Regions from separate parts of the Homo sapiens genome. Here region 2 is linked to region 1. Evidence: fine-mapped expression QTL. A gene starts in region 1. The other region holds a variant in brackets. All regions are shown on one strand. Distances are from middle to middle. Region 1 holds the start of CAPN9 (calpain 9). Region 2 overlaps C1orf198 (chromosome 1 open reading frame 198).

Region 1 (12,870 bases):
ATTTTAAATTAAATTATTTTAATAAACCCAGTAATATTGTACACAGACAATATAAAAATCTCTGTAGTCAAAGGACTTTTAAAAAAATTACATCTCCTTCTGCTATAGAAAAACTTCACACACCTCCAGCAGCAAAGAATCTTATTTCTCAGTGGTAAGGCATGTTAGGGATACTCTTGCTACTATGTAACAGACTTTATCAATGTTCCCTCCAATTAAACATAATAAGGCCAGGTGCAGTGGCTCACATCTGTAACCCCAGCACTTTGGGAGGCCAAGGCAGGAGAATCATTTGAAGCTAGGAGTTCAAGACCAGTGTGGGCAACATACTGAGACTCCCTCCTCTACAGGTTTTTTTTTTTTTTTAATTAGCTGGGTATGACTATAGTCCCAGCTGCTCAGGAGGCTGAGGCAGAAGGATGGCTGGAGCCCAGGAGTTGGAAGCCACAGTGAGCTATGATCATGCCACTGCACTCCAGCAGTGTCTCTAAAATAAAATAATAATAATAAATGTCCAATCACAATTTCCACTATGGGGCGGGGGGTGGCTGGGAATTAAGAGTCACCTTGTCCACCAGGGTGTTGCCCTGAGCAGGGCATGAGATGGTGTGGCAGAGTCTGCAGAGCTGAGAGCCCAAAGCTGGGGACCACTGAGAAGAGCAAATGAGTTTCTGAGGTTCGGCAAGCACAGAGAAACCAGGTGGAGGGCTCATCATTAACGGGAAATGTTGGAGCCAGGCTGAGCTTCCGGGGTAATTACGGTGCATTGCCCCCGATAGGAAAATGAAACACAAGTTATGCTAGCTGTGACCCCTCCACAGCAAATACCGTAAGGAAAGAAGCTGGTTCCCAGAGACACCTCAACCAAGAAGATCCCAGAGAGCCAGAGGTCCCTGCTCCAGTGGCAGGTTTGGTAAGATTCACCCTGACCTAGATGCCACTATCAGAAGGAGGAAGGAGGAGGAAGATCACTTATTTGGGGAAAAGTGGACCTGTTACTGGAAAGGGGTCCTGATCCAGACCCCAGGAGAGGGTTCTTGGACCTCACGCAAGAAAGAATTCAGGACGAGTCTATAGATCGAAAGCAAGTTTATAAAGACGTAAAGAAAGAATGGCCACTCCGTAGGTAGAGCAGCAGTATGGGCTGCTCAACTGAGTATACTTAGGGTTATTTCTTGGTCATATGCTAAACAAAGGGTGGATTATTCATGAGTTTACCAGGAAAGGGGCAGAGGCTTCCCTGAAACAAGGCTTCCTCTCCTTTTTAGACTATAGAGGATGACTTCCTGACATTGCCATGGCATTTGTAAACTGTCATGATGCAGGTGGGAGTGTCTTTTAGTATGCTAATGTATTATAATTAGTGTATAATGAGCAGTGAGGACGAACAGAGGTCACTTTCATCGCCATCTTGGTTTTAGTGGGTTTTGGCAGCTTCTTTACTGCATCTTGTTTTATTTATCAGTGGGTTCTTTGTGACCTGTATCTTTGTGACCTGCCGACCTCCTATGTCATCCTGTGACTAAGAACGCCTAACCTCCTGGGAAAGCAGCCAGGAGGTCTCAGCCTTATTTTACCCAACCCCTATTCAAGTTGGAGACATTCTGGCTCAAACACCTCTGACAAACCTTACAGGATATTTGAACTTTGAAGTAACTGCTAGTTTACAGAGACAGAAGAAGAGAGATAGAGTAAGAGAGACCATTTTAAAATGAATAAGAGTGTCACACAACAAAATCTAAATACAAGTTTTGGTGCGAGGTGGTAACTGGGGACTCCAGAGGGCAAGAAGAGATAATATTTTTTTTAATTAGGATTTTTGGCCAGATGCGGTGGCTCACGCCTGTAATCCCAGCACTTTGGGAGGCTGAGGTGAGTGGATCATGAGGTCAAGAGATCAAGACCATCCTGGCCAACATGGTGAAACCCCATCTCTACTAAAAATACAAAAATTAGCTGGATGTGGTGGCACACGCCTGTAGTCCTAGCTACTTGGGAGGCTGAGGCAGGAGAATAGCTTGAACCCGGGAGGTGGGTTACGGTGAGCCAAGATCGCACCACTGCACTCTAGCCTGGCAACAGAGGAGACTCTGTCTCAAAAATTAGGATTTTTTTGGGCCCTAAACTGCGGAGAGTAAATTCCTATCCTGCTGCACCTGTGATTCAAGTCATCCTAAGATCTGTGCATAGCATCAACCTCCAGCTCCTAGATGAGAAGGAGAAAGGAAATCGTCTTGGGCTGAGGTCAAACTCCAGGGAAAGAAATCCCAGAGAGTTAGCAGAAGGCAGACAGGTATATTTATCATTCTTCAACAATGAATGTTTAAGGAGTGAAACTACTTCTCAGGGACGGAAGTACAATTTCAACGGTGTCACCTTAGGCCATAGGGGCAGTGATCTAGAGCTTACTTAGGGAGATTAGGCCTTGGAGGAAACTATATTCCACAATCAAGCCAGAAAGCAAGGCCAGAGCTGAGAGAAGCTATAGGCAGCTTGTGCAGCCCTGGGAAACCAGGGGAACCACCAGGTCGTCCACGAGCCTATGCGCCTACAAGCTGGGATCTCTTGAGTCAGACAGCTGAGGCCAAAGACTGGCATCACCCTGTGGAGCAGCGAGTGTGGGGGAGATTTGGGCTGGGTGCTCTGTTGCCTTTCAGGAGATGGCTCTTACCCTATGGTGTGATGCCTGAGCACGGCTCATTCCCACTGAAGAAAAGATTTGTTATGGTTCATGAATGAGTGCCCACTAGGACAGGGGTGAAACTAGGAGTGTTCCAGGGATGGACAAGTCCCTGGATGAAGAAAGGGAGACCCTCACCTGATGTCAGGCTTACCAATGACCTTGGGAGGGGATGGATAGGGAAGCAAGGTCTGGGTGAAGATCTAGTTCTCATCTTCTAGGAAATGGGGGTGGCCCTCAGGACAGATAAGCTCCTTTGCAAATGTACAGACATCTTGCGAGGAGAGATACACGGGGGAGGGAAGGCAGAGCCCACCTAGGCCAAAACATCATTGTGGGCTTTAAGTTTCAAACTAGGCTTTTAAAAGTCGACAACAGTTAAGGCTAGTGTTGTGGTGTACACCTGTAGTCCCAGCCACTGGGGAGGCTGAGGTAGGAGGATCTCTTGAGCCCAGGAGTTCAAGCCTTCAGTGAGCTATGATCATGTCACTGCACTCCAGCCTGAGTGACAGAGCAAGACTCCGACTCTAAAATAAAATTTTAAAAAATTCAACCAGGTAAATCTATAGGGTTAAAGCTAAAAAAATATAAAAGGCATATAGAAAAGTCTCCCCACATTCCTCTACCCCCATCTACTCCACCTACCCCCAGAAAACAGAACCACTATTATGAGTAGATCTTTGTGTAGTTTCCGAGAAATTTTTATGCAGATATAAATAAATATTTTTTGCCTTCTTTCTCCACAAATGCTGGCATACTCTACATGCCATTCTGCACTTTGAATTTTCTTTTTTCTTTTTCTTTTTGAGACAGAGTCTCGCACTGTCACCCAGGCTGGAGTGCAGTAGCACCATCTCGGCTCACTGCAACCTCCACCTCCCGGGTTCAAGCAATTCTCCTACCTCTGCCTCCCAAGTAGCTGGGATTACAGGTGCCCACCACTATGCCTGGCTAATTTTCTGTATTTCTAATAGAGACAGGGTTTCACTATGTTGGCAAGGCTGGTCTTGAACTCCTGACCTCATGATCCGCCTGCCTTAGCCTCCCAAAGTGCTGGGATTACAGGCGTGAGCCACTGCACCCGGCCACTTTGACTTTTCAGTTGAACACTGTATCCCAGGGACCTTCCCACATCAGTGTATGCAGAGTTTCCTTGTTCCGTTTTATGGCTGTACACTGTTCCACTTCATGATTAGCTGGACCATAATTTTCTTTACCATTCCCCCAACAGAGGGCACTAAGTGCTTTCCAACCTTTTTTAATGTAAACAATGCCACCATGAAATGAGCAAGCTGGTATACCTTTCACTTTTCGGGGTGCGGCTCTATCATCAGGATAAAGATAAATTTCTAGAAGGGAAACAGCTGGATCAGAGTGGGTGCATTGGTAGCTCTGAGAGGTATTCATAAATAGTTCTCCAAAAAGGAGACACCAATTTACACTCCCTTCAGCAAGTAGGGGGGTGTTTTACTTTTTCTTTTTGAGATGGAGTCTCGCTCCTCGCCCAGGCTGGAGTGCCGTGGCTCGATCTCGGCTCACTGCAGCCTCTGACTCCCGGGTTCAAGCAATTCTCCTGCCTCAGCCTCCCAAGTAGCTGGGATTACAGGCACCCCCACCACGCCTGACTCATTTTTTGTATTTTTAGTAGAGTCAAGGTTTTACCATGTTGGCCAGGCTGGTCTTGAACTCCTGACTTCAGGTGACCCATCTGTCTCAGCCTCCCAAAGTGCTGGGATTACAGGTGTGAGCCATTGCACGCAGTCGTCTTACTCTTAACATACCCAAAGTGTTCAACTTTTCTTCCAAGTCTGCCTCTCCTCCTTCTGTCACCACCATCACCCATTTGCTCAAGTCTGAAGGCAGGACGCCACCTTTACACCTCCACCCTTGCACCCCAGCAGAACGCCCTGACAGTACTTCTAGAAGAATCTGTCCCTTCCTGCCTTCACTCTGGTTACATCTGGAGTTAGCCTCAGCCCCTCTCACCTGGACACCTGTGCAGGTCCCCTGCCTCTCCACTCTCCACCCTCCTCGCCAGCCCACCCCATCCTCCACACTGCAAGCCAAGGGGCTACAAATGTCGCAGCCGGGTGGGCTCACTCTCAGCCCATCATAGGGCTGAGATCCCTCTGCAGGATCCAGGCTGTTTGGCATATCCCTCAAAACCCAGGCCCTGCTGTAAGGCCTGGACCGGGTGGGGTCCTAGAGGTCATCTCCCTGCACCCATGTGAAGCTTCTGAGCATTTGTCCTTGGGGTTTTGCCCCATGGCATCCCAGAGCCACCCAGGCACTATGTTCACCTCCTGCTGCCCTTCAAGATGAACAAGAAGAAGAGAAACAAAGGGAGTTCGCCACAGGCCTGAGTGTGGAGGAGACAGAGAAAGAACAGCACAGAAAAGAGAGGCCAGGAAGGCCCCAGATGCCAGGTCAGGTTCATTTCATGTAGAAATCACTTCAGCAGATTGCTCTGCTAAAGAGAAGAAAATACACTTAACATGATGCATGGCCCCCGCTTGGCTCAAAGCTGATTGCATCTCTAGGCTAGCGACAAGCTGGCAGAGCTTATTAAAAACAGTGCACATGATTCTCTGCCCAAGCTCAGAGCCCTTTCCCTCTGAGCCACTCAGGGCATTTCCCAGTGTGGGTGAGGAAGTGTGCAAGGCCTGGTAGACCTTAGATTGCATGGCTGCAGTTTCTGTAACTATTGTTCATCCTGAGAAGTGAAGGTTTGGAAAACTAAATGAAGACACCCAAGAATGCCATCTGCTTTCTTGAGGCATTGGTTCAATGTTTACTCAGCAAATGTGCATCGTGCTCCTGCCCTGCACTGGGCTGAGCTGGGAGCAGGATTAGACGCTAAGACAAAGTCATGGAGAAGTCCGGTGCCATGAGCTCTGCAGGAAAGATGGACCCAGGGCTCTGTGGGCAGACATTGGGCAGGAAGAATGATGAGGCTGTAAATCCTGAGAATGCACTCCCTCCCGCAGACATTCTCAGAGTCCCAGAGTGTTAGGGGGCAGGAGGAATTCCAGCTGTGGTTCTGGAGGATTGTTAAACCTTTTTGGTGTGTTTCCTACTCTGAGGCATGTTTGTTTTACTCACAATGATGATGCAATTCTCCAATTACCTAGCAACTATACTAAGACTCTAAAGAAAAAGGCAGGTTCTTCCAATACATAGATAAGTCCCAGGTGGAAGGACAAGACCCCAGCCTGGAGAGGTGTTTGTATCGGGAGGAGAATGAGAACGTAAATCCCTGAAGCTGGGAGTGGGTCTGGTGCTGAGCAAACCCTTTACAGTTCTGGTCAGTGCTGAAATTTACTTCAAGGTCCTTTCTCAGTTGCTGGGGCATTTGAAGGGGATGCTCCCAGAGATCTGGGCTGGTAATCATTTCCCTGCCGAGGTGTCACCAGAAATGGATGGCCCTCACATTGCCACACCTGTCTCCCTAGGTTGCCCTCCTTAATCACTTCGAAACAGAGCCGTCTGCCAGGGCAGTGGGCAATGGGACACTCCTGGGCAGCTCCATCATCTCTAGCCAAGAATCATTTGGACTGGCCAGAACTGCACTCTGGTCCCAGCCAGAGGACCCCAGTTCCAAAGTCCTTCATTGTGCAAACAAAGAGACAAAAGAGATGCCTTGCAAGTTGAGGCAAGTCAGGCTCAGAAGGAGACCATGAAATTCAGCAGCATCTGTGGGAGTGGCAGGGGGTGCAGAGAGGATAGGGGAAAGGGAGGAATCAGCAGCTCCTGATCCCCTCCATGTGCCAGACTTTGCAAGTGGCTTTGCTTCCACAAACCCGCCATGCCTCTAGCAGGCAGCACCGATTATCCTGATTCACAGCTTGGAAGCAGGGACAGACAGCATGGATAACTCGCCCAAGATCACCCCAGGGAAAACTGGGAATTTGTCTTAGTTCATTCAGGCTTCTATAACAAAACAGCACAGACAGGGTGGCTTATAAACAACAGAAATGTGTTGCTCACAGTTCTGGAAGCTGGAAGTCCAAGATCAAGGCACTGGCAGATTCCATGCCTGGTGAGGGTCTACTTTCTGGTTCCTGTGTCCTCACATGGTGGAAGGGAGGAGGGGGCCCTCTGTGACCTAATCTTTCATAATGACACCAATCCCATTCATGAGGGCTCCACTCTTCTGACCTAATCACCCCTTAGAGGCCCCACTTTCTAATACCATTACCTTGCAGGGTATGGGTTCAACATACAAATTTTGGCGGGGTCGGGGGGGTGGTGCGGAATACAAGCAATCAGGCCATAGCAGAGTAAAACCCAAATATCCCCAACTCTAATGTCTAGACCTCCCCTGTAAAACCATATGCAGGATCTACTAGACAGAACGTGTGTCAGACTGAGTGCACACTCCTGGGAACTGTGAGCTTATATAAAAATTCACATCATGGCCTTTTAACTGTACCCATTAACTCAAGACCCCTTGTCTCCAAACCTCAACTTTGACTAGTTAGAGAATCACACAGAAATCATTATAAAGTGCTTAGAACATCAGAGTTTTCACGTGGTGACTAATACTTTTATTGACTTATTTTTATTGATACATAATATTTGTACGTATTGATGGGGTACATGTGCTATTTTGTTACATGTGCAGAATGTGTGATATCGAGTTGGGGTATTTAGGCTATCTATCCCCTCCAGTATTTATCATTTCTTTTCTTCTTTCCTTCTCTCTCTCTCTTTTCTTTCTCTCTCTCTCTCTTTTTTCTTTTTTTTTTTTTTTTTTTTTTGACAGAGTCTCTCTCTGTCACCCAGGCTAGAGGGCAGTGGCACGACCTCAGTTCACTGCAACCTCCACCTCCCAGGTTCAAGGGATTCTCCTGCCTCAGCCTCCCAAGTAGCTGGGATTACAAGCATCCGCCACCACACCGGGCTAATTTTTTGTATTTTTAGTAGAGACAGGGTTTCATGATGTTGGCCAGACTGGTCTTGATCTCCTGACCTCGGGTGATCAACCCTCCTCGGCCTCCCAAAGTGCTGGGATTACAGGTGTGAGCCACCACACCCAGCCTGTATAATCATTTCTATGGGCAAACACATTTATCAAACCACCTCCATCCTCTAACATTTGTTTTTTCTCAGACGTGAGATCCTATTTGTAGGACTATAACAACAAGGAACTTTATTAATATGATGTCTAGAGAATGAAAGAGGCACATGTGCCCTAGAGGAAGAGCCGATGTCCTCTGTGAGTTCTCCTCTATCAGGGGTCAGGTTGGATGAAATCTAACCCCCACCTGCCTTTGTAAATAAAGTTTTATTGGAACACAGCCACACCCATTCATCTGTGTCACATCTACGGCTGCTTTGTCACTACAACAGCAAAGTTGAGTAGTTGCAGCACAGACTTTGCGTGGCCCACAAAGCTGAAAATATTCATGGTCTGGGCCTTTACAGAAAAGGTTTGCTGACCCCAGTGCTGAATCACTATGGGATTGCCTGTGCAGGAGCTGTGCCAGCTGTGTTCACATAATGCATCCTGCTTTCATTCACCAACCTCCCTTCCGACTACAAAACTCTGCCATTCTCTGATGCAGGAGATGGGACTCAAGACCACACCGTGCACTTCTCCGTAAAGCCACCTCCTGGACCAGTTGGGTTTCTTGCTCCTTTTCCTTCTGAAGCAATCCTCTCTCTCCCATGAGGCCCCCTGAGCGCACTAAGCAGAGGTGCCGCCTCTGAGTGGAATGTGCCAGGCCCCAGAGCTGCCTCTGAGTCTGCAGGAGTGCAGAGTGGGCAGAGGGCTCTCTCTGCTGTTTTCCATCAGGGCGTGTCCCATCTCAGTCTAACAGGGAGGTGCCCAGAAAATAGGTGGAGGTGAGGGCCACTCAGCCCAGTGGCCCTCTGAGCTGTTCCTTCTTGACCGGCACACACAGCTCGCTTCTTCACTTTCTTTTCCATCCACTGCCGGACCCAAGCCAGCCTTCCAGGGAGCAGCCATGCCTTACCTCTACCGGGCCCCAGGGCCTCAGGCACACCCGGTTCCCAAGGACGCCCGGATCACCCACTCCTCAGGCCAGAGCTTTGAGCAAATGAGGCAGGAGTGCCTGCAGAGAGGCACCCTGTTTGAGGATGCAGACTTCCCAGCCAGCAATTCCTCCCTGTTCTACAGTGAGAGGCCGCAGATCCCCTTTGTGTGGAAACGACCAGGGGTGAGTGGGGCGAGCAGGGGAAGGAGCATAGATGAGGCCGAGGTTCAGCAGCCCCCGCAGGAAGTGGAAACAGGGGTGCTGGGGAGGGGCCGGCTACGCTCAGTGCAACTGAGGTGCATCATCCCAGTCTACCGTGGAAAGCTTTGCAGTTTGGAGGCAGAAAATAATGTACAGGCCTGGGATGCTCTGCGGTGGGGACCCGGGGCATCTGGTTGTACCCGCTCCCCGGCTCCAAGCTGTCTGACTCCCACCGAGGCTGAGGACCTGGAGTCAGAGTGGGTCTTGTCAGCAGGTGATAGGCACGAATCAAAACCTTATCCACAAGGACAGGCCCCCACCCTGTGTGTGGTAACACTGAGATCACGTTATGCACAGTGTTCTGTGGCTTCTGGCCCAGAGCTGAGGGTGCTCAGTGTGGATGGATGTTTGGCTCAGCAAGGTCTCAGCAACCGGGTGACAGATGGAATACAAGGGAAGCAGGAATCTTCTCCCGAGAACCATGCACCCCCCATTCCCAGAGATCAGGGTGAACAGTGCCCCACCTCTGACAGTCTGGAGGTGTCGTCCCAAGAGGCACCAGCTGGTCACTGGGTCCCAAGAGGTGCTAGCTTGTGCCTGGGACGCCATGTCAATATTTGCGGTGCTGGATTAGTCAGGGCTCTACCTCTGACCCGGCGCCAGCTGGGCTGGCTTCCATTCCCTCCAGGTGGGTACGGGCCTGGGAGTGGCTCCTGTGGGGTCCGGTTGCTTTTGGGCAAGGAGGGGCAGTACAAGGGATGCTGGTCCTACAAGTGAGATCCTGAGTGCCTGTCTTATCCTGACAATTTGTCTCATGCATATAGTCATATCACTTCATTTCCCTGAGCCTCAGTCTCCTCACCTGTAAAATGGGAACAATAATGGCTAATGCAGGCCAATGTCTAGCACACAGAAGGTTTCCAGTACATTACAGCTATTGTCACATTATTACTATTACTGATACTATTATTATCATCATTACAATGATTATTAGCTCTGAGTCTCATCTTACATATGAGTAGCAAAGGACTCATCATAACTACCTCCTCACTATCTCCCAACATTAAAATAATGTTGATGATTAAAAACAATTTTTTTTAACGCACATTCACAAAACTTCTGGGCTCTTCAGGGGCAGGGCCAAAGTGAACCTAAGTGGGTGTTTCCGAAGTGGTAAGGGTTTTATTGCTATTTCCTGCAGTAGGCAGTGTGGGGTGTATGTGTGTGCACGCACTTGTGTGTGTAGGAATTTGACTGTGTATGTGCATGTGTGTGACTGTGTGCACATGTGTGTGGATATGCATAGGCGTGTATGTGGGGGGTGGGTGACTGCATGCATAGGCACACAGGTGCTTTGATCTTCACCTGCCAGGTAATTGATCCCACAAGGTGCCATGTTCATGGGGAAATCACAGTGAGCATTCAGTGGCCCTATCGGAGTTGGGGTGAAAGCTCCCAGGCACCTTCCTCACCGAAGCCACGCTGTGATTGTTTTTGGTTCTCTGCATATGGCCAATTGCAGTGTGAGGTCACGGCACTGGCAGATCACGTGGGGTTGCACTTTACAGACAGGATTAGTAGGTCATGCTCTGCTAAGTAAGAAAAAGGACATTTCCAAACTAAAAAAGCAGAAGTTACAAGACATAAAAGAGTGACCCTCTGAGGGGCACCGCCCACGACCATTAGGTCTCCCTGGGCTTATTTCCGGCCTCGGCGCATGAACAAATGGGCGCGTGGGCAGCTGCCCAGGCTGCAGGCTGTGGGTGCATTTTTAACTGTGGGCAGAGATTTCCCTGCAGTTGATGTCAGGAGCCCTGGGAAATAGAGTTAGAGAAATTGATTTCCTGGGCCCCTGGTGAGCAGAGCCCCTGGCCAGAAGCAGCGGCTCTTTCTGTTTGATCCAGGGTTTCATACAGATGCTCATGTTCTCTACAGGCACTTGATATGAAAAGGTTGGAAGCACTTTTTCTCTTCCTTAAAATGGGGACAATAATGCAACTTATGGGGTCCTCATGAGGGTCAGCTGCGTTACCATGAGTAGAGCACTTAGCAAAGAGCCTGGTGTGTAAAGAATCAGTGCTGGTCCTTGTTATTTCTACTGCTGTCATTGTAACCTAACACCATCGTCTCCTGACTCTAGGAGGGCCCCCATCCTTGCAGTCTATATTGACATCATCTAGTTTAAAGTGTAATCTGTACTCTACAACTCACTTACTTTTTGTCAAAGTTAGAATTCTCCAAGATAAAAGCTGGACGCACAAACCAGCATGGAGGGCATCTTTGTCTCCCCCTTCAGAAGTCTCCCCTCCTGGGACCAGGGCCACCAAGGCCTGCCCAGCGACTCTAGAGTCCCAGATCTCTGCTCCAAGGGGCTGTCTTCCTTAGTATTATCTCCTCTGGCATTGCCCCAAACGCTGGGTGAGGCCTTCATCCACAGGCCAGGGCCCTTGATACACACAAGCCCCTGCCAAGATGCACCCCGACCTGCCACCCAGCCCATGCCCCTGTACCAGCCCTCTGTCCCTTCTTCATCCCACTGTCTCCACCTACGGCAGACCCTTTATTGATCTTAACCCAGGTCTACTGTGTTGCTGTCGTTCCCACAGACTCATTTTCAGAATCTGTTCTGCCTTTTCCTTTGTCTGCAACTGAAGATTGTCCCTTTGGTCTGGTCCTCATTCTCGTACCCCTATCTGTTTCTTATTTAGGGGAGTTAGAAGCTTTACATCATATCTTACAGATTTCTGTAAAATCAGGAACAAAAGGGCTGAGGATGAGCATGGAGACTCTTCTTGCAGCATAGAGTCGCAGGGAGCCGGGGGGTAGCGGGCCATAGGGAAATCACAAGCATTGCCAGGTTCCCTGCAGACCTCTGTGGCTTGGGCATCATTTGCAGTGGGACTCAGCATTACACGGTGCACATCTCAGCAGCCCGTGGGACCGTGGGGCTGGACGGCCCTCCTCCTCAGCACCACCTTCTTGTCAAACACAGCTGTACTTGGGGAGGGTGGGCAGAGCACAAAGCCAAGGGGACATTGGAGGGCAGTGGACAGCCAGGCTTGCCCTCAAGGGAGCCCAGGGCAAGGAGTGCACTGAGGGTGACTCAGGGAACTGGCTGGGAGGGGCTGGGAGGCAGAGAGGGTGATAGGCTCAACCTGGAGAGAAGGTGAGATCACCCCCAGGTCTCATGCAAGGGACTGTGGACCTGAGTGGAAGTGGGTGCACAGAAAGAGGAGGAGGGAGTATCGGGTGAGGTCTCCCAGCCTGATGGGGAACAGCCACCATGCAGTCCATCCCTCCTTGTCTGCCTGTACCCATTTATTTTTGGCCAGGCAATTCCCCCCCACCAATTCTCAGTGTAAATCCAGGACACCTCCCCGAAAGTGCCCACACCCCTCTAGCCCATGTGAACAACCCCTGTGGCAGACCTGTGCACAGCGTGGCATGTGACCACAGCCTCTCCTGCACGGTGAGCTTGCCGTTCCCTGTGCTGCTCCCCTGACCCCCAGGAGGGGTTGTCAGTTGTTCTGGGACAGCCCCAAAGGCCCCATGGCCTCCACAGTGCTGGGCACATGACAGGGATCGGCACATAGCTATGAACAGCAGCGTCTGGCATCTCCAGACCTTGCTGGAAATGTGGCTTTTCTTCACTGGAAGGCCATGTGAAAGACAGAATGAATGAAAAAGAAAGAGAGAAAGAAAGAGAAAAAGAGAGAAGGAGAGGAAGAGAGAGAGGGAAAGGGAAGGAAGGGAAGGGAGGAAGGGAGGAAGGAAGGAAAGAAGGAAGGAAGGAGAGAAAGAGAAAGAAAGATAGAAAAAAAGAAAGGAAGAAGAGAAAGAAAGAAAGAAGAAAGAAACAAAGAAAGAAAGAAAGAAAGAAAGAGAAAGAAAGAAAGAAAGAAAGAAAGAAAGAAAGAAAGAAAGAAAGAAAGAAAGAAAGAAAGAAAGAAAGAAAGAAGGGTGGCTTTTCCCTTTGTGAATTATTCACTG
Region 2 (16,587 bases), 110 kb after region 1:
AATGTTCCCAACACATAGAAATTAAAAATACTCGAAGTGATGGACACCCCAAATACCCTAACTTGAACATACAGTCTCTGATTTCACAAAATATCACATGTACCCTATCAATATTTCAAAATATTGTATATCGAAAAAAAACCTGCCCTTGTCCATCACCCTGCTGGGTGCTAGGCCTCTTCCCCACTGCTTTCCCCAAAGGAAAAGGGTTTGTCATCTAGAATTTCTAAACACAAACCTTTTGGGGTAGGGGAAGAATCTTTTTTCCTGTCTAGATCCGACTCTGCTCAGCTCTAAAAACTCCAGGAACTATAATAAAAACAGACTCTAGCAGGGCCAGGTGGGGGCCCAGGGGAGATCAAGCCCATCTCTCAGGAACTGCAGCCCATCCTGCCCAGGGACCTCATTCTACCCAGGGGGGACCTGTACTGGTATGTGTGCACACAGCACCAGGACAGAGCGAAAAGTGGCTCCAAGCTCATTTTCAAAGACACACCGACATGCAGACCATAGGAAGGCAGAGCCCCTTTTGCCATTTCAAAGTAAGTTTTACTGCTTTTTGCTTCGGTGACTCCACACTGTTGGCCACTCCCCATCTCTTCCAGTCCAGGGCACAGCCTAGACTTTCCTAGAACAAAAGTCCATTTTCTACAGGTGTGGAAAAAGAGCTGGGCTCTTGAGAAAGGAGGTCATGCCAGCCCTCTCCCACGGCACTGAGCAACAGGGAGCCAGGGCTGGCGGGAGGATGAGGCTCATGAAGGGGAGGAACCCATGGGCCATGGGACGCCAACTCATGGGCGCTGGCCACAGACAGAAAGCCGGGGTTTGGGGATGCAACTTAGTGGTCTTCTATAGTCTTTGAGACAGGGGAGATAGGAGAGTCCACAAGGAAGCCGTCCCTCCTGACGGCAACACTGACAGCCCAGCCTCAATGTCCCAAGTGCCCACGGAGGCTCTGCTGGGAGGACTCCCTCCAGCCAGGCCAGGGCTGGGCGTCAGTCACCCCATGCGGGGAACTGGGTCTCAGTTGGCCATGTCTGTTCTAAAAACAGAAGGACCACAACCGAGCCCAGTGTCTATTTTTAACGTCCCACTCACTGAAGAGGAATGTGTAATATTTCAGTAAAAGACGAGTGCAGGCTGCCAAAACTAACTGTTTGGCTTGGCAGCCTCGGACAGATCTAAATTGTTGAGACAAAGGCTACAGAAGCCTTGTCAGAAAAGATCATCATTTACTGGAGCAAATCCTAATACATTCACCAACCACTTAACATCTATTCTTCCCACCTCCCCTCCAAAGAGGGAAGAGGAGGAAGATGAGCAGGAGGATACTAAAAACCTTTAGAATCACAAATTTAGTAGAAGTGGCAGCTGACAGGGACAAACCCAGGGGCCCAAAGAGACGGGGCGTGAACGTAAGCAAACAAACATCCACCCCGTCAGCCTCTAAGGCAAAAAACACCAGCCAGGGAGAACTCAGCTGAGGCCCAACAGGAAATGGGTGCAGAGGTGCACCAGTCCCCAGGGTTGTCAAGGTTAAGGGACAAATAATTGTGTCTGCCATTCTGGGCTCATCATCTCACAGGGACAAAGACGCACCAACAAGGAATTCATCAGCATGATCCCCATTTTTCCTCTATCACAGTGCTTCCTAACGGTAACAGGGAAGAGGGTAACTCTGGAAGCTGCATAGGGCTTAAGAGCCCAGCACTGGGCTTAGGACTGCCTGGTTCACATCTTCACTTTATGCCATAGTTTCCTCATCTGTAAGGTGGGTTGCTGTGAGGATTACACTCTGCAATGCAGGGAGGGTGCTCAGCACAGACCCGGCACGTGGTGAGATTCCTGATTGGGACAACTGTTAAAAGAGGATTTGTGCTGAGTCTGGAGGGCAAGTGGGGCCTTCTCAGGTGGATAGGGGTCAGGGGACGGAGCAAAACACTGAGGTCCAAGAGAACATGGTCCCTGAGGTGGGTGAGAACAGAGCCTGTGGGATGGCAGTGCAGGGCTGAGGGCAGGGCTGAGCGAGTGACGCATCGTCCCACACACATGGAGAGCAGGGAAAGGCCAAGAGCAGGGGCACACAGGGGTCTGCTGTTGTCTCAGGAAGGGGTGAGGCACAGCCCAGAGGAAGGGCAGGAGGGAGGGAGGGGACTGCTGGGCAGAGATGGGGGTCTCGGTGAGAAGCACAGAGACCAAGTTGCGGGTGGGTGGATGCAGCCCCATGGTGTCCTGCCTCTCAGAAGCCCCGTGACTGGTAGTGAGGAGGAACCATTGAGCAGAGCCAATGAATCCTCTATGTCCAGGAACATCCTGCTGGAACAGCCCTTCTGTCCCACCATGGGCAGCAAAGCCCCGAAAGTCACAGATAGACCTGAGCTCCAATTGCTCTCCGCCCACTCGACCTGCCAGGCACCTGACCCCCTGCATCCCGGTGTCCTGACCCACAGCGTGAACAGGGACACCAGCCTCCCAAGGGTGAAAGAATTCAGAGTACACACACATCCCTATCATGGGCACAGCACAGAGGAAGGGCCTGTGCTCATAAATGCTTATGTATCTTCCCAAGGAGGCGTCTGGAAGGCTTCCCTACTCTGGGAATGATCTATATTAGCCCCCCAAGATCTTTTGATACCCATGAAATCAAGGAACCGATCCCCAGCCCAACCTACTTACTGCCCTAATAGGCAGCTGGACATCAGGTGAAGGAAGGGGGTAGCCAGAAAGGAGAAGCAGCCAGACAGCTTGGGGGAGGGGCAAGGCTGGGGACAGGGTCACAACGCCCAGCCAACCAAGAGCCCAGCCAACCAAGGCTGGGGATGGGGTCCCAAGAGCCCAGCCAACTTTGAAGCAGGGCCTGACCTGCCCCAAAGGCATTTTCTCCTCTGAATTCTCCAGCCCAGACCGCCTGGGGAATGTAAAGAATCCTCTCTCCACTCCCTGCCTCCTCCTGTCTGGAGCCTTCTAAGTGCTGAGTTTTTTCCTCTCGAAACAGCAGTAGCATGAGACAGGAATGCAACATTAGGTCCCCACTGGCCCCCTCTCCCCTGGCACGCCTGCCAAGCTGATAGATGAGTGGAAAAGATGACAATCACGACCACCCCCACCCTTCTGGGACAGGCAGGCCTCCCTTCTGTGATGGAAGAAGTCTGGGTAACAGAGGCACCACAGCCACGATCAGCCTCAGAGGAGGCAACCGAGGCAGGGTGGACAGGCTGGAAAACCAGGTGGGTGCACAGCTGCTACTGTGAGGCTGCAGCGAGCTCTCCTGATCAAAGCTGCGTTGCATGGGGGCAGCGACCACAGGTCCCAAGCACAACCGCAGCTCATTCTGTGGAGGTGGAATGGTCATGGGCTGGCCAAGAGAAAGGAACCCATACAGAGGTGCAGCAGTTGGGTGAGAAACCAAAAATCCCTGCGATTCTTAACTCTGCCCATGGCCATGACCTTGGGTCAGGCTTACCCTTGTGTAGGTAGATTCGTCAGGGGATGGAGAAGTCAGAGCTGGGCACTCTGCTGGCATCCACTAAATGTCTGTTGAACTGAATAGCTGAAGAAGGGCATGAGGTTACATCTACCCAACATGTGTACAAATTTGGGTTAAACGTATGGAGAAAATGACTGGAGTGACTCGGTGGCTATAGCTTTTGTGCTGAGTGAGATTTGCCACCAAACACAGCTGTCCACTCACTGAGCTGTTGTTCGAGCACAGAAGTGGCATATGCTCAACTCTGGGCCTGCAGCATAATGTCTGACATAAACGGGGTATACAATAAATATCTACTGGAAAAAAAAAATCAATGAATGATTTCAGAGACAGAAAATAGATGGTGGCTGCCATGGGCTAGTGAGAGTGGGGGGCAGTCATTCTTTAATGGGAACAGAGTTTCAGTCTTGCAAGATGAGTTCTGGAGGTGTGGATTAGCTTGACTTAATCATTCCACAATGTACACACGTATCAAAACATCTTGTTGTACATCATAAATATACACAATTTTTCATTTGTCAATTAAAAAGTAATAATTTTTAAAAAGAGTTCTCGAGATGGATGATGGTGATGTTTACACAAAAATGTGAATGTACTGAATGCCACCAGACTATACACATAAACATGATTAAGATGGAAAATTTTATGTTGTGTGTATTTTGCCACAATTAAAAATAAAACTTAAAAAAATCAATGAGTGATTAATTAAAAATGGAAAGAAATGGCCAAGGTTAACCAAGGAATGAATGACATCATACAATCTTAGATTTAAAATGGGTGCAAACTCTCTGCAGCTCTTCTATCAAGAGGTGCAATCTCTTTCCTCAAACATTGAATCTGGCCCAGCTTGTGCCTTGATTTGACCAGCAGAACAGAGCAGAAGTGATACTATGCAATTGCCCAGCCTAAGCTTCAAAAGAGTCCTCGTAGGCTTCCGTTCCCGCACACGGATCTCTCCACCTCTGTGTGAAGAAGTCCAGGCTGGCTTGCTGGAGACATGTGGCCCAGCTAACAGCCAGCACCAACCAGACACGTGAGCAAGGTTCTCAGAGCACCCAGCTCCCATCAGGCGATCAGATGACACATAAGTGATCCCAGGCAAGGCCAACGGAAGAACAGTCCAGCTGAGCCCTGCTCCGATCATTGACCCACACAATCATGAGCACATAAAATGCTGCTTCAAGCCATTAAGTTTGTTATGCATCTATAGAGAACTGATAGAGTGAGGAAGGCATCAGTTGAGAGGTAACAAGAAATGGGGTCCAAGTCTCCCTCCAGTCCTGCAATTGGAGATTAGGGGGTCCTACCTTCACTAAAGCCACCTCCTGTTTGTGGCTCTCCAATGAAGATCTTATAAGCCTTTAAGTCCTAAGAAGAGTTTGGCAAATCTCTTCAAGCAGGATGGCAGGGCACTCCAGGGTTAAGACAAAGGAGGAATGAGTGATGGGCTTTTTAAAACTCGGCACTGCCTAGTGAAGAAGGAGGAAGGGACAGCTCCCTTGCTCTCTGAGATACGCTCTATTTTGCCCCTAGACGTTTCTAATAGTAAACTATAGTAAGTCTGACCTCGAGAGATCAAACAGGAAGGTGAGGACACAGAGTGAGCCCAACAGTTTGTGAAACAAACTGGAACTCTAATCTAACAGGAGTATGAAATGAAACTGCCAACTCTGAGCTATGAAGACTACACTTTACTAAAAGGATGCAATTTCTGATGGGTGACACATATTAACCAGATTTTAGCAAGCTTCCTCAACTTACACTGGTTCCTAAGGGACCAGATATGCTGGCATCTGTGGACAATGAGCCTCTCAGCACAAGTGTGATTCAAGTGGACTGTACTTGCTCTCTTTTTTCTCGAGATCTTCGCCAGGCACCTGTTTCCCACTCTGGCCCCAGCAGCTGTGCTTGTATCAGTGGCCACTCCAGGAGCTGCACCACCTTGTCCCAGAATGTCATTTATGCCAAGTTAATAAAAGATGAAATGTCCTGTCCCACAAATAGCTGATTCAGGAACATTTAACAAGCTAAATTCTTAAGAGAACAGATGTTCTCGTGGGGAACATGATGAGCTTAGGTCTTAGGACACTTTAACTATTTTTTACTTTCCTTTGCCTTTATCACTATGATATCTTCAAATATAGACCCAGTCCAGGAAAATCTGCACTGCTTTCTGGGTCACCATACCCAAGGCTGCTCATTTCCAACACACAGAGAATCTATCTGGCTATTACCACTAGATATCATCTATAGGATTAGTACTTCTCACAATTACCCATTTTGGGAGCCCATAGAAGAGGAATATTGAGGGCCCTGGCTAAGAATCAATGTAATGATGCACTTTTTACCCACTTATGACTTCCTTTGCAATGTCAGTAGACACAGGATCCAGTGTTGGATTTAGAAGCTATTCCAATTGCAGGCGGCTCCTTAACATCTTGTGCTCTCTCCCAAGACAGTGCTGGTCACCCCTGCAACCCGTACCCGATCCCTAGGGAGACTACATTAATGCCATGCCTTCCCCAAAACCACCTCTTAACTCTAACACTCATCTCAATTGTCCCACGCTCCCACGCCCTGAGGCCAGCTCACTTCACCCAGGGCAATCGGCAATAGCTTACTAAATACTGTCTGTGTGCCAAGAACAGTGTCAGCTGTCCTTGTGTCCATCTGAACCCTTGGGCAATATTTCATTTTAAGACACAGTCGCCAACATGAGGGCCTCTCAGGGTCCTTCATGAACCACTCTGGCCCACCCTCCTCATAGGTCTCCTGCTGGGATGAGGGCTCTGATCAGCAATGATGTGGACAAGTGAAAAACCAAAAAACAAGTGCCTTGAGGTATCAGTATTTAAAAACCCTGATCTGCCCAGCAGTCCGAGCCCTATTCCAGGCTCACCACCGTCTCTGTCTGTAACACACTCTCATGACGTAAAGAACCCTCCAACACACATCACCAAATGTTCCAGAATTCAGAAAATCTTGGTCTTTTATTTCTGTCCCTTGGGTTAAAGACACCTGTCTTTTAGTCATTTTGCTTATGAATGTACTTCTACTGGGGCAACTTAGGAGATGGGGAAAATGAATTAAAATCAGTGAAGCTTGATGCTCTTAAGCAACTCTGGTGATGATGATGATAATGATGAGAAGAAGAATGACTGGGAGACAGAATTAGTGATCCACGTTGGGATGAATTAGCTAAATGGATGTCTATGTCTATCAATCAGCTCGTCACCTCCCATTTGCTCAAAGCTTTGTCTTATGGGGCATCTCCCATCAAGGTGCTAAGTGCTGGGAACCAGAGGTATGAGCAGAGACAGGGCCCCCAAGAGGGCTGGCCCCCTTAACCAAGCTGGCCGGGAGTCCTAGACAATGGGCATCATGGGGCGTCATTGGACCCTGGCAGAAAGCACTACTACTTTGAACTCACTATCACCAAACCACACACAATAGTTTCCTAATTCCTCACCATGCTCCTCCCATCCCCTCCTTTTCTACCAACAATGGACACATCCCCTGCAGCCTGGCAGTCAGGGGGCTGTCTTCTGAGTCCATCAAATGCTGAAAGAAAAATATACAACTACTCAGTTCTTTTTAAAAGAACAAATAGATCTAAATTTAATCCAACTTACCTTTGTTTCCCAGGAGAAAGGGGCAGAGTGCTCATCTTGCCAAGTTAGATCCTGAAATAAAAAATCGAGAATAAGTCTGAAATTCAAACCCAGACATACCCCATGCAAATATCCACCCAGGACCGTGGGGGAACCAAAACTTAGGAATAATCCCAACTCCTGGCTCTAAACAAGCCTGATGCTTTGACACTCTCAATATAATGCGCTGACCGTCTTGATCAGATTGCTCCCTCATCTTTCCCGCTGAGGCTGCCAGACACTCCCCTCCCCAGCCAAACAGACAACAGGGAATGCCGGTGAGGCCCCCCAATGGACTCAGACAGATGAGATGAGTAGGAGTGGATGAGGGCTTGATGGTCTCAGCAGAATCAGGCACAGACTCAGCCCTGAACAATGATTAGCTGTGTGGCCATGGGAAGATGACTCAGCCTTTTTGAGCCTCAGTTTTCTCATTTGTAAAAGCAAAATGATACTTCCCTTGCAGGGCTGTTGTAAGGATTAAATGAGGTAATCTGGGAAAAGAACGCCAAGCCATAATCTGCCAGTCAATGCCAATACAGGAGCTCCCCTCCTCCCCAACAGGCCTACCAGAGAGCTCGAGGGCATGGATCAGCAGAATCAATGAAGAAAAACGCCAATGTAATCCATGTGACTAATTATAACAAGAACTCTGAAATCACTCCCCACCCCCACCAAACAGAACAGGACAGAAAGAGCCCTATAGAACAATCACTACGAATTTGACCTTGGATCCAGTATGTTTTGTTCACTGGCCTGCACAAATGACTTGGGGAAGCCACCTTTCCTTATATCCCACCCTCTACCCGCAGTTATTCCTGTGCTAGCAAATGTCTCATCTGTGTCCAGCTTCGATTGGGTAACTTTTGTTTGTTTGTTGGTTTGTTTTAAGAGATGGGGTCCCAGTATGTTGGCCAGGCTGGACGCAAACTCCTGGGCTCAAGGGATGCTCCTGCCTTGGGTGTCCAGAGCAGCTGGGACTACAGGTGTGCACCATGTCTGACTGCTTCTACTGGGAGCATATTTTCAGAACAAAAAATCAGGACACATTGGGTGATACAGGCTAAAATGGGATAAAATATTTTAAACGGAGATCATATCCATATCTCCCCAAAACTCCAGGTGATTTATGTCCTTCCGTAAGTATCCCTGGATAACTGTCTTCTTCCCACCCATAGGTACACCGACTCTGCGCCCCTAAGTCAAGGGTCTGGCTTCCCTCTCCTCTACAGGGCAAACCAGTTCTGCCCACAGACCCTCTTCTTTCAGCTTTTGACAGAGCCTCCGCCACCCTAGCTTAGCCTCAGACACTGGGGGCAAATGCCAGGGCCCACGCAGGGGGAGTGCCTCACCAACACATAAGTGTACACATTCAGCCTTCCAGACCCCGAGTGTGCGTTCTCTGTGCAGACGCCTCCTAACATGAACAGCCAGTGGGAGGTCAGTCTTTGAACTCAAATAACGAAGGCATGCCAGGGTCTGGGCAGCTGAAGGCCTATTCCCAAGAAGCGGGGACAGGGAAGGAAGTGTGTGATGACTCCCCAGCACAGCCCAAGCACGGCCAACCCTAGATGACAGGGGCAACACAGCAGGGCCTTTGTCCGCTTCTCTATCCCAAGTGCCCGGAAGACTCAGCGACTGCCCGTAGCGGACGCTTACTCACTCTTTGAGAATATGTGAATAAACAAACTCTGCACAAGCCCGGATCCTTTCACAGGTTGATTTTCCCCCACAATCACCCGCTCCCAACACTCACACTCCCCCAAGACTTCCCAATGTGGGGGCACAGGCTCTTCACAGCTCTTGGCCCCAGGAGGAAGAGCCAGCCATCAACAGGGTAGAGATCTGGTTCTGTGTCCTGATGGCTGTGCTGTGTGCCTTGGCTCTGTGCAGTAGAGGCTGGTACATTTGTGGCACAAATACTTCACATATGCTGGGGATAAAGAGCAAGGAAAACCCAGAGAGGAGACTGTCAAAAGGCCAGAATCCAGGTCTTTATTTTCCCAGGACAGCATATAAAAGGACTAAATATATTTATATCAGGAAAAAAAACACCACTAACAAAGATACTAGGTATAAATATTAAGAATTACAAAAGTGAGGGAAAAGCCCTACAAACTGGGTTAAGCTGCATTAAAGTGTATCAAACAGTCAGTTCTGAGAACCACATAGTGTGTGCAACTAATGACCATGTGCACAGTAAGATGACCCCCATCCTCAGAGTGTTACAGTCACTGTCCTGTAATGGTATTTGCTTATGATCCTGACTTCTGAACTGATTGGTATGCAGTGCCTCATGGCTGTCAAGCAAAACCTTTAAAAATGAGAGGAACCACTGCCTTTTTGTTTGGAATTTCAGTTAAACTCAAGTCACTTCCCAATGCACAAACTTCATTCCTCCAAAAATGGAAATGGATGCCTGGAGGAATGTGAGTTACCAAGGCTTTGTGATTAGATGTCTCCTAGCAGAGGCAGAGGGCCAGCCTTCAGCTCTAGGGGGCTCCTTGTCCACGTCTCTGTGTGCATGCTAGGGGTACAGTTGAGCTAAATAACCAAAGTCCCTAAAATCCTCAGAACCCTCTGAGTTCCGTTTAGAAGCAATCAAACCAAGAAGGGCTTTGTTTTCACATGGGAAAAATAAAAGAGGCTGATGGAATGTAAGTATCATTTATTCTAGTTAATCATTCATTAACTCTTCGTGAATAAATGATCTCTGCACAAGCCTGGATATTTTCACAGGTTGATTTTCCTCCCCAGCCTCCACACCCCACACTCACACACCCCCTAAGACTTCACCGGCTCTTCACAGCTCTTAGTTCCAGGAGGAAGAACCGGCCATCCACAGGGTAGAGTAGAGATCCAGCTTTGGATCTTTCGAAAAAGGTAAATGGAAATCAACTGGCAAAGGTGCTCCTTCCATCCAGAATCAGACAGGCCACTGGCCACCCAAATGGAAAGAGGAAGTGCATGAACACCTGCGGGGCAGGCAGAGGGCAGGACCACTGACTGGCCAGGGTGGGGCATGATGGAGCTGGACTCCCCTGTTACTCGATATGATTCTAAATATTAATTATATACCTTAAGTCCCTTTGAAATCTGCAAAGATTAAAATAATAAGGCTTTTGGCTTTGGAAGGTGGCTCAATACAACACTCTGAGGAACGAAGACTTAGCCCAGAGCTTGGGGACAGTCAACTCTCCAGTGACTGCAACCCATATTAGCTGAAATTCCAAGGGGGTCACAGGAGGAGAAAGGGTCACACTGTGATTTCTCCCCTACTTAGTGTCGAGTCAATAGTCTTCTGTTTGCTCCAGCAAGAAATGAAGTCAAGGGGCAGATTCCTTGGGTTTCTGTAATTCTGAGCTCATAAAAAACAATAAAGTGCTTAACAAAAATAAACATGCCAAACAAAAATGTGATGGAAGCTCTGATGTCAGCCGTGGACTGCACGCTCTAGCCACAAAAAAGCACTGGCGGCAAGAACAGGCTCCCTGGGCTGTTGGATGCAAATGGAATCAGAATTGCAAAGTGGCGGCACCCACTCACACGCATACAATGCTGTCCTTTCTTCTACTCCCATGGTGACCAGCCTGCAACCAAAATGAGGCCAGGCACATGCTTTTGGACCAATCACATATGCTTTTTCTAGGACTGCTTGGAAGGCTTTCCCACCCCCCTCTCTGGCGCCTAGGATCTGAAATCATCTAAGTGTCAAAACAC[A/T]TCTGTTACTTAGGCCACACGACAAGAGAGTGGGCTTCATTGTTGGCCAGGACTTATCCTCAGAGTCAAATTCCGTAAGAGGCATCCATACCAAATGGGCAGCACTGAATCTCTCCAGAAACAATGACTTCTTTGGAGTGCAGAACAGAAAGATGCCCCAGGTCACCAAATCCCAGAGCAGAAAGCCAAAAAGCAGGGGGGAAGCTATAGAAAGCCACCAGAAACACAGAGCACTTGGCAATTATCAGAGGCCAGCGCTACATGTAAGAGGCTCTGCCAGTCCCCACGCAGCTCCAAGGACTCCGGGATAAACACACACACAAACAATCTTTTTCCCTAACATCCCAGAGACCTTGAGTATTTGCTCTTCTCTGGGAAATGTTCATTCAATTCAGTGTGCACCTCCTAAATCCTAAATGAAACAGAATTAAAAATAATAACATATATTTTTTGCTCATAGTGCTGGAATACATGTTTGCATCATATCGCCAGCGTTTACTTCTTTACTTGTTGATAAAAAAAATGGATACTGGAGGGCTTAAGAACTCTGTGGTTCCTAGACACTTTTATTTTTGGAGGCTGCAAGGCTGCAACCAGAGGTGTGTTGGAGCAGGCCTGCACCAACTAACGAGAGCTGATTGTAAAATTTTGAGGAATTTCTTGAACCTGTTGTTAAATATCTTGTTTAACTGCTGTGATTAAAAAGGTGAATTATACAAACTTGCAATTAAGTCCATTGTATTAAAAATAAAGGTAATATACTTCACACCCACAAGGATGGCTACTATCAAAAAGCAGATACTGGCAAGTATTGGTAGGATGTGGAGGCACTGGAACCCTTGTGCACTCTTGGTGGGAATGTAAATGATGCAGCCATTATATAAAACGGTTCGGCAGTTCCTCAAAAAATTACACATACAATTACCATTTGTTCTAGCAATTTCATTCCTAGGTATACACCCGAAAGAACTGGAAGCAGGGGCTCAGAGATCCTTATACCCCGATGTTTATAGCTGTGCCATTCACAATAGCCAAAAGATGAAAGCAACCAGGTATCCACTGACAGATGATGAATGCATAAACAAAATGTGGTCTATCCATCCAATGGAATATTATTCAGTCTTAAAAAGGAAGGAAATTCTGATACATGCTTCAACATGGATGAACCTTGAAGACATTATGCTTAGTGAACTAAGCCAGACACAAGGATAAAAATCATGTGATTCCACTTATATAAGGTACCTAGAGTAGGCAAAATCATAGAGACAGAAAGTAGAATAGAGGTTATCAGAGACTGAGGCCAGGAAATGGGGAGTTATTGTTTAATATATACAGAGTTTCATTGTTTAAAGGATATAGTTTCACTTTAAATAATACACGAGTTCTGGAAATGGATGGTGGTGATGATTGCACAACATTGAGACTGTACTAAATGCCTCGGACTATACACAGAAAAGTGGTTAAAACGGTAAATTTTATGTTGTATGTATTTTACCACAATAAAAAGTCATGGAAAGACATGGAGGAACCTCAAATGAATATTATTAAGTGGAAGAAGCCAATCTAAAAAGGCTACATATTGTATGATTCCAGCTATATGATATTCTGGAAAAGGCAAAACTACAGAGACAGTAAAAAGATCAGTGGCTGCCAGAGCCTGGGGGGCGGGAGGCATGAGCAGGTGGCACACAGAGGATTTCTGTTAAGGCAATGGATCCCCTCTGTATGATACCATCATGGCGTATACCTCCAAGAGCGACCCCTAGTGTAAACCAGAGACTTCGGTTGACAATGATAAAAACAATGCAGGTTCACTGATTGTAATCAGTGCACCACTCTGGTTTAGGATGTTGGTGGTGGGAAAGGCTGTGTGCATATGCACGTCTGTGTGTACATTTTGGGAAAGGTCTGTGTGGGAACTCTCTGTACTTTCCGCTCAATTTTGCTGGAACCTAAAACTACTGTAAAAACTGAATTTTTTTAAAGTGTGCCCCCCCCAAAAAAAGTAATAAACACTAGAAACTCATCATTTCAATACAGTTACTATTATCCATGGTCTTAAGGTTGTTTGCATCCATTGTATGTGTAAGGTGGAAATACCATATAGCGCGGTGCCCAGATATGCATCCCGTGAGTCACGCCAACAGCGTGCAACGGGCCATGGTGGAGTATCTGGTCATGGCAACCAGCAAATGCTAGAAGTCAGGGCTAGTTCGCCTCACTCCCCCAGAGCCGGCTCCAGCATACCACAGGCTACAACCATAACAAACATCCTGATATTCATCACATTCTGCAAGTGTTTCTGGTGTGTGGATGGATAGCGCCTGCAGAGGGAGCTGTCCAGCATGGGGGCTCCCTTAGGGCCTCCACAAGCTGTTCCAGGAAAAACAGCTAGGCGGGGAGTGAGGGGCTTTCTGGGGTGATTCTAAAACAGCATCAGGATCTTGGAACACGGCAACACGCGTATTGATGCCAGAAATGGTCATCGTCTTCCTGAAATCCATAAATAAGGAGAGTTTCTGGTTGACACCTGTGGCATCTTGGCTTGAAGGTAAGAAATGTAAACTGAGAAATTCTATAAGCTAGAGAAATAAGGCTTAGAGAGCAGAGCATGTGAGCAGGACAGAAAGTCCCATAGGTTGCAGAGTGTGTCACCCTGTAGTGATGCCAGGTGGCCTGGCCATCTTGGTTCATCCAGGGTGGAACACGTTGTTCCTGGTGAGCTGTGTCGTGCCCATCACTCCCTCAGAGATGCCAGAGCCTGTCCTGTGGATCAACTGTAAGGTTTAATTACCGAGTGACAACACTGGTTGTTGTCACTGATAATGACAGCACCCTGGACATGTTGACCAACTGAGGGCCTCCCAACCACAGCTCCATGCACAACTGTGCTTCTGCTATAGTTATTTCTATATTTATTCCTCCACAAATAAATATATTACAGGAGTGAGGTAATCACATTCCTTGGCATTTACCCAGATGAACTGAAGACTTACGTCCACACAAAAAACCTACACACAGATGTTTTACTCATAATTGCCAAAACTTAGAAGCAACCAAGATGTGTTTCAGTTATTGGATAAGTAAACTGTGATACATCCAGACAATGGAACATTATTTAGCAAGAAAAAGAAATGAGCTACCAAGCCATACAAAGACATGGAAGTACCTTAAATGAGTATCACTAAGTGAAAGAAGCCCATCTCAAAAGGCTGCATACTGTATGAATCCAACCATATTACATTCTGGAAAAGGCAAAACCATGGAGACAGTTAAAATATCGTTGGTTGCCAGGGGTTGGGGGGATGGAAGGATAAGTAAGTGGAACACAGAGAATTTTTAGGGCAGTGAAACTCCTCTGTGTGATATTATAGTGATGGGTACATGTCATTATTCATTTGTCAAGATCCATACAGTGGACAACCCAAGAGTGAACCCTAAACTATGGACTTTGGGTGGTAACGACGTGTCCATGTACGTTCATCAGCTGTCACAAATGCACCACTGTAGCGTGGGAGCCAGAGAGGCAATGAGAACTTTGTACCTTCTGCTCAATTTTGCTGTGAATCTAAAATTGCTCTAAAAAATTAAGTCTATTCAAAAAGAGGAGAGTAAGGAAGAATGATTAAAATATGTTCTTTTTTTACCAACTGCTTATTTTCAGCAAGCATTGTTTACATATTTATGGAATCCATGCTTTTCCCTTTGACTTGTAATATTTTTAACTCTGCTGAGATAAGGGGGTTTCCATAACTGGAAATACAACACTGCAGTTGCAAAGACAGAAAAACAGTCCTGATTTAACCATGGGGCATGTTTTCCACCATGAATACGAATCCAGAAACTCAAGCCTCCATAGATTACAGCAAAACAAAAACTCAGCATGAGCATGGTAATGGAAACAGGATACAGAGTAGGTGGAGGAAATGCTAAAGAAATGAGCAAAATATGACAGGAAGTCTAAACAAATAGGTCTCATCTTCCTTCATTTATTCAGAAGAAGAAGAAGAAGAAATAGATATTTTCTCCAGTACTATGGGAATCCCTTGCTTAGAGTGTAAAAGTGACTCTTATCAATTAAAAGATGACTCCACACCTGTCGCCATGCTTCCTGCCCTCCCTCCCCGCAGGTCTGTGACCAAGTCACTTCATTTCTTTGCTAAACCTGTTCCCTGGCTGCCACTGGGCCACCCTCCCACAGGAGCCAGCAGGCAGAGGTGCCTGGGGAGGAGAGGCCTAAGCTGCTGCCTGAGCTCCCAGGGCAGCAGGCCACGTGCTACTCAGGGCAGAGAACCCACAACATAAAAGGGAAGCTCACAGAACAGGCCCGACCGCCCTCTCCTCTCAGCCCGTGGAACTGGAATTGAAGCAGGGCCATCTCAACTCCTGCCCAGGGCCCCAGGTAGAGGGACTCAGAAAACCCTGCTATCCTTTCTAAAACATCCATGGATACAGCAGGCACAAGGTGGGAATCATAATTCAAACATCCACCTTCCTTAAAAAATGAGTCCAAAATGCTGAGAAAGCAACTCCCTAATTTTCTTTTTCCTTTTTTTTATTTTTATTTTATTTTTTTAATGTCAGATTTCAAAAAGAAAAGGCCAGTCTACTAAAGGGAAAGGGGATGAGGAAACTTCATGTGTCATTGGTCCTGCATTGAGAGGCCACACAGCAGCCAAACTCAAATCTAACAAAGATGTAAGGCTCAAGAAAGTTCTGAAGCGATTGATTCTACCAGCTGTTTTATAATGCTCCTTCTGCCTGGTTTGAAACTTTTAACAATAATGTACAGGTAAAAACTTTTGTAATAAATTGGTTTATTTTAGAAAGCAAACCTCTAGGCTGGCCAGCACACAGGCCCCTAGGTTTGCAGAAAGGTCTTTTGCAGGTAGCCCTAATGACACAGAGCGGGTGTAGCAGCTCAGCAGTTTGCTAAACATAGGTACCCATAGCCGCCTCTAGCCTAAGGACTAAGAAGCCACAGGCAATGCAGCAGACATAGGGAGGCAAAAACAGCTTCAGAAAAGGAAGCTAAGGCCAAGAGGAATAAGAGAGCAACAGCAAGTCCTCAGGTTCCTGTAGGAGGAGCAGAGATGAAGGCACTGGAGGGACACGGCAGTGGATCATGCCAAGCTGTTGAAGAGGGGACAGAGCTGTCTGGCTCCGGGTTCTTTAAAAATCCACGTTCCACAACATGTGAAACCCCGATTAGGGATATTGAAACACCCTTCTTGCCCAGCTCCACCGTATGGAGAGATGGAAGAGGCAAGTAGGTCCACGCGAACAAGACGCACCAGCTGCCAAAGCTCCCCCAGTCATCTGCTTAGGGCCCATCTGGAGCCAAGAATGTATCACAGAACGCAGAACCCTGTAACTCTCACCATGTACTCAGATCTTGCTAGATCAGTGACAAGAAGATTGGGGGCAGGAGCAGGGAGGAACACATTCCTAACAATTCAGAGGTGTGTGGGGTTTTCTCCTTGCAGATAACAGGAAACAGCAGAAGCAAACAGGGTGATCCCTCTAAAATAAAAACTTTTCCCCTCCCAAACTAAGCCATTCCCGAAACCCTACTGCTGGAGGAAGAACGTGGCAATCAAGCAGCGTGGGTGAAAGACTGTCAAAAGCATCCATTTGCAAACCTGCCTTAATGTTCTTACCAAAATACTGGACCCAAAGTGCACGGCCCCAGTGTCTGGGCCTGCTCCAAGCCAGACCAGCGAGTTGGAA

Evidence for each region. PIP is the estimated chance that this variant, and not a neighbour inherited with it, causes the effect. A credible set is the group of variants that fine-mapping cannot tell apart.
Region 2: its variant is the best candidate, but not a certain one, in a credible set for the expression of CAPN9 in tibial nerve (GTEx, PIP 0.76).

What each region holds. Positions count from the first base shown.
Region 1 is chr1:230,738,848-230,751,717 of GRCh38, forward strand. CAPN9 (calpain 9) reads left to right here and starts at 8,541. Exons shown (of 20, transcript NM_006615.3): 1 at 8,541-8,862. The coding sequence starts at 8,650. It also overlaps a transcript of AGT not described here. RefSeq lists an enhancer at 11,846-12,870.
Region 2 is chr1:230,848,549-230,865,135 of GRCh38, forward strand. C1orf198 (chromosome 1 open reading frame 198) reads right to left here. Exons shown (of 4, transcript NM_032800.3): 2 at 7,120-7,170. Among named protein-coding and RNA genes, the nearest start is that of C1orf198, 12 kb to the right of the region's middle. RefSeq lists enhancers at 229-3,687, 6,694-7,893. The variant A/T (reference allele first, on the strand shown) is at 10,858.